Linked DNA regions of Homo sapiens: region 1 is linked to region 2. The links come from fine-mapping of genetic effects on gene expression. A gene starts in region 2. The other region holds a variant in brackets. All regions are shown on one strand. Distances are from middle to middle. Region 1 has its middle 45 kb from the start of MEAK7. Region 2 holds the start of COTL1 (coactosin like F-actin binding protein 1).

The links. PIP is the estimated chance that this variant, and not a neighbour inherited with it, causes the effect.
Region 1: its variant is the best candidate, but not a certain one, in a credible set for the expression of COTL1 in spleen (GTEx, PIP 0.74).

What each region holds. Positions count from the first base shown.
Region 1 is chr16:84,547,941-84,550,949 of GRCh38, forward strand. No RefSeq gene overlaps it. Among named protein-coding and RNA genes, the nearest start is that of MEAK7, 45 kb to the left of the region's middle. RefSeq lists enhancers at 1-200, 952-1,701. The variant C/T (reference allele first, on the strand shown) is at 1,419.
Region 2 is chr16:84,616,946-84,619,445 of GRCh38, forward strand. COTL1 (coactosin like F-actin binding protein 1) reads right to left here and starts at 1,133. Exons shown (of 4, transcript NM_021149.5): 1 at 893-1,133; 2 at 556-638. The coding sequence starts at 969. RefSeq lists silencers at 962-1,011, 1,032-1,391.

The sequences.
Region 1 (3,009 bases), 69 kb before region 2:
CTTCTGTCTGACAGCCCCCTCCAACTCCCCCAGCCCGGGATCCCTCCCTGACAGCTGGTGGGCTGAGCCTGCTTCCCGAGGCTGGGCTTTGGGGTTGGGGTCTCTTTGTCAGCCCAGGAATAACCCAGCACCCACCCGCCCAACCCACACACATACACAAACAGTTCATTCACCCTGCAGGAGAGGTCAGGCCCTCCCACAGCATCTGCCCAAGATGCTCGCAAATCCACGGGGACAATCCCAGGCCTGGGGCATCTCCATGTCACATAGGAGGGGGGGGGGTGCTCAGCCGAAAGCGGGGCCTCGAGAGGCTCTAAAGACAGCAGCACACGGCTGGGCGCGGTGGCTCACGCCTGTAATCCCAGCACTTTGGGAGGCTGAGGCAGGCAGATCACCTGAGGTCAGGAGTTTGAGACCAGCCTGACCAACATGGAGAAACCCTGTCGTTGCTAAAAACACAAAATTAGCTGGACGTGGTGGCAAATGCCTGTAATCCCAGCTACTCAGGAGGCTGAGGCAGGAGAATCACTTGAACCCAGGAGGCGGAGGTTGCGGTGAGCCGAGATTGTGCCATTGCACTCCAGCCTGGGCAGCAACAAGAGTGAAACTCGATCTCAAAAAAAAAAAAAAAAAAAGCAGCACAGGGCTCACTTTTCCCTCAGACCCTGCAGGGCCATGGAAACAGCCACAGGGGCTCAGGCAGCTGAAGAGAATGTTCTAGAATCCACAAAGAGCCTGGCCTGGCAGGAGCCTGGGGACCTGGAGATGCAGCCGGGTGCATCTATTCAGGCTTTCAAGCCTCCAGCAACCTGGAGACCTGCTGTCTCCACGCCTCGCCTCTCACACGGAGCCAGCCTGTGGGGCGAGTGGCTGCCTGCTTCCACCACCCCGACTCCTCCGTGTTGGTTGGCCAGGGTAATGAGAATGTGCTTGTTTTGATGAAATGTCAATCACTTGTATATAAATATCTATATTTAGGACTCCTTTAGAAAATAAGAAAATCTGGGAGCACACAGTCACCATGCAGCTGCCCTCTTTAGAAAGACACGCGCCCTCCCCTGGCCACAGTCCCCACCTCTCCCTGTTGTCTCCTTGGTGCCCAGCCTCCAGCCCTCCTCCCCGTACTTGCCAGGCCCCGGAGGCCTTGGATCCCCAGTCCCCTGCCCAGAGATGCCCCGGGGCAGCCAACCCCATGCCAGACGAGAGTCTCAACCGAGCAGGGAGGCAGGCTGAGACGCAGGAGGCCTTGCCCACTTAGAATCAGCCACCAGTGATACAGAGGGTGGAGGAGGAGAGGCAGGAGGATGGAGGAAGGACATGCCAAGGTCTCAAGCTGGAGAACACGGGGCTGATGGGGAGGTGGCAGAGACAGGGCCTGCTGGGAGAAGCAGGAAAGGCAGAGAATGTGTCCATGCGTC[C/T]GGAGCCCTGACCTGTGGTGGGGCCGTTCTGTCGGCAACCGGGACATGCGCTTGTCTGAGTTCCAGGAAGAGAGAGCTGTGTGCACATCCTGTCATCAGAGCAGCTTGAAATAAATGCCCCTATTTGTGTATCCGATTGGCAACAAGTAAAAGATTAATGATAGGAGACAGAAAGCAGATGAGTGGCTGCCGGGGGCCAGGGAGGGGGTGGGGAGTGACTGCCTAATTGATACGAGTTTTCCTTTTGGGGTGACAGGAAAGTTCTGGGGCTAGAGCAGCGGGGGTGGCACAATATCGTGAGTGTGCTGAATGCAACGGACTGGATCACTTTAAAATAGTTAAAATGGTAAGTCCTATGTCGCGTGTATCTTACCACAGTTAAAAAAAGATGACTCATATCCATTGTTGGTGAGGGCAGGGGAAAGGGGGCAGACTGTCAATCAACACGTGGCTTCGGGAGGACAATTTGGTAATTCACATCCATAATGTCCTTTTTTATGTTTTAATTTTTAATTTTTATTTTTTGTAGAGACGGGGATCTCATTTTGTTGCCCCAGCTGGTCTCAAACTCCTGGCCTCAAGTGATCCTCCCAATTCGGCCTCTCGAAGTGCTGCGATGACAGGAATGAGCCACTGCTCATGCAGCACACATCGATAATTTAAATGGTTAGCCCAAAAATCTTTTAGAAATCCACCCCACAGAAATTCTGAAATAAAGACTTGTGTGAAAGGAGGTTCAAGACAGAAGTGTTCCTTAAAAGCGCAATTGCTGGAAACCATAGGAATGCCTTACCAGTTTTCTTTTGTTGTGTAACAAAGTACAACAAACTTGATGACTTCAGACAACACTCTTCCCTCCCCATAAAAACACCCAAGTCACTGGTGATGTCACAGTTCTGCAGTTGAGAAGTCTGGACAAGCACGGTTGGACTCTCTGCTCAGGGCATCCTAAGGCCAAAATCAAGGTGCCAGCTCACTGCATTCTCACCTGGAGCCCAAGGGCCTCTTCTGAGATCACTTGGTGGCTTTAAGACAGGGGTTCCCGTATTTCCCAACTGTGAGAGCCATGAGCCATCCTTACCTCCTGGAGGCCTTTCTGACCCACCCCCCGCAACAATGGAGAATTTCCCTGTTCCCTGAAGTCAAATCCCTCTCCTACTTACAATCTCCCTGTCAGAAAGAATCCCAGCCCTTTTAAGGGCTCGACTGATTGGGTCAGGCCCACTGAGGGTCATCTCCCATTCTCAAAGTCAACAATGTCATAAAACACACTCTAATCTAATCACAGAGTGATACCCCCATCACGTTGGTAGGATCCTTTATGGGGTATAGACGTCAGCCTCAACAGTGTCTGTCAACAGGGGACTAGTTCATCTCCATAATCTCAAATACTGGAGACTTTTTCAATAAATGAGATATCTCTATATGAACATTTTCCTTGAGGTGTTGTTAACGACATGCAAATAATTGATGCAATTTCATCAGTTTCCTTGATGTAATTGCAAAACTACACATATACCTATTATATATATATAATTTCATGTATAATTGTATATGTACAATTTCACTTACATATATAAAATTTCATTTT
Region 2 (2,500 bases):
TTCACACCATAGATTAGTTTCGCCTTGTCTAGGATTTCTAAATGGAATCATATGGTGTGTACTCTTTTGCATCTGATTCTACTCGTCAAATTAAAAATCACATAAAATCAGCACACGGGCAGACAATGATAGCGGGAGAAAGGAGGGCGCGGCTGAGTTTCTTTCCCTTCCAAGCAGCCCCCTAGCCTGTTCGTATTTGGGCTCAGTGACTGATCAAAGGGGACAGTGGGAAGAGCTGGATGGACACTGGAGTTTGGAAACACAGGAGTTGACCTTAGAAAACCAGTGGACCGCAGGGGGCAAAAGAGCTGCCCCGCCTGGAGAAGGCATTGTAGGATGGCGGAGGCAGGTGGGTCACTTCTGTTGCTTCGGATGTCCAGAGGGGAGAAGGTTTTATGAGGCCTTAAAACGCTCACACCGGGTTCCTCCCACGCCATGCGCCAGGGGCACCCCATGTGGCCACCGGTTCCTCCCGGGTTCGCTCTGGCCGGGGCTCCCCGGGTGCAGACAACCTCCCAACGACCGCGCATCCGCCCGGCAGGCGCGCCTCCCTACCTGTGCACTGCTGGATGAAGTGCTGGTACTCCGCTCCCTGCTCGCCGGGGACGATGGTGGAGCCGTCATATTTAAAAGTCACCCTTTGGGTTGGGAGAAGAAAAAAACACACACACACATCAGCGCTGGTGGCCGCGCGACGCGGCGCTTGCAGAGGACAATCTAACAGACGCGCTGGCCACGGAGAAGCCCGCGGGGGCCTGGCACGCCGTCCCGGAATAAGGCGAGGAAGACAGCGCGGGAGGCCCGAATCCGTCCCGCCTGGAGGCCGGCTCGGTGCACGAGGCCCCGCGCGAGCCCGGGGAGCGGGGCGTGGAGACGAATGAAAAGTTCCTACCAGATGACGGCCGAGCCGTCGTCGCGCACCAGGTTGTACGCCGCCCGGCAAGCCTCTTTGTCGATCTTGGTGGCCATCGCCGCGGAGCCGCAGCGGGACACTGTCCGGGGCGGCCGAGCGCGCCCCTGGCCGGCGGCGGGGATGGGAGCGCGGCGGGTACGCGCCGAGGGCGCACGGGCTGGCGGCGGTGGCGACGGCTACGCGGCGCCTGCAAGCTGCGAGCGCGGCGGCGGCTTCCACTGCGGACGGAGAGCGCGCGGGGACCCCAGGCCGTGGCCCGCCCCGCCCCCCCGCGCCCATTGGCCGCCCAGGCGGCGGCCCGCCTCTTCATTGGCCGTCGGGCTGCGGGGGCGGAGCGTCTTGATTCTCTGGCGGCCAATCCCAGACCGGAAGGCTTGCGCAACTCCGCGGTGGGGGCTGGAGTAGGGGCTTTGCCTCCTCCCTCTCACTCTCCCTCCTCCCTCCCGCTCTCTTCTCCCCCAACATCCCTCTTCTCTCTCCTTCTCCTTCTCACTTCCCCTCCTCCCCTCCCGACCCCTCCCTGGAAACTCCCACTACCCCAACCCCCTTTCCCACCCCGCCTTCCTCCTCTCCCTCCTCCTTCCTCTTCTTCCCCCACTGCTTGCTTCCCCCACTTCCCTGACCTCTTCCCCCTCCCTTCCCTCCCCCTCTTTCTCCCTTCCCCCTTTATTCTTCTTCCTCTCTCCTCCTCCCTCTTCTTGCCTATCCCAGCCCAAAACTTCTCCATCCTCCCTATTTCCTTCTCCCCAAGCTCTCCTCTTTCCTCCTCCTTGACCCCCTCCCCTGCTGCCCCCGGCTTCGCCTCCCTCTTCTCCACTTACCCTCCTGGCATCTCCTCCCTCCCTGTCCCCTACTCCCTCCTCCTATTCCCCCTCTCCCCCTTCCTCATTCTCCCCACCCCCCTGCCCCTGAGGCTGCAGGGCTGCAGAGCTCCACAGGGGACCTCCACGTGGATGATGTAATGCGTCAAACCCAAGGAGACAGGCTGGCCACTGTCCCTACCCCAGCGTTTGGTTCCATGGATTCTAGGTGGGGAGGAACTGGAAAGAATGAAGCATTTTAAATAGGAGGGGGTAGAAAGTGGACTGCTTCCAAAACGCTGGTGGGCTCGCGTTTACTCTGGATTCTGGTCATTTGCATTCCTATCTTAACCTCTCCCTTTGGGCTCCTCTGAAAGCACGAGCTGACTCATTCTGTCTTCCTCATTCCTTCACTGACTCATTCATTCATTCCCTCATCCAGCCATTCCACAGAGACCAGTTACAGCGTCCAGGTAGGTAAAAAGGCAGGATCCTGAAGACTGGGCTCTTGAATTGCATCCAGTACTGCCACTTTCCAACTGGGGGCCATTGGAAAGCCTCAAAACCTCTTTTAAATGACTCCTCAAATGGGAAAAATAGTATAACTGACATCACTGCTTTGTTTTAAGTGTAATTGAAATGATACTTGGAACAAATATACTAGACATTCGATAAAATGTCATCATTGTTGGTTATTAAGTGATAAAAACAAATCCTAAATAGAAACCCAAAAGGTCAGGGACAATGTCCAATTAATGTTAGAATTCTCAACAAGCAAAAAAACAAA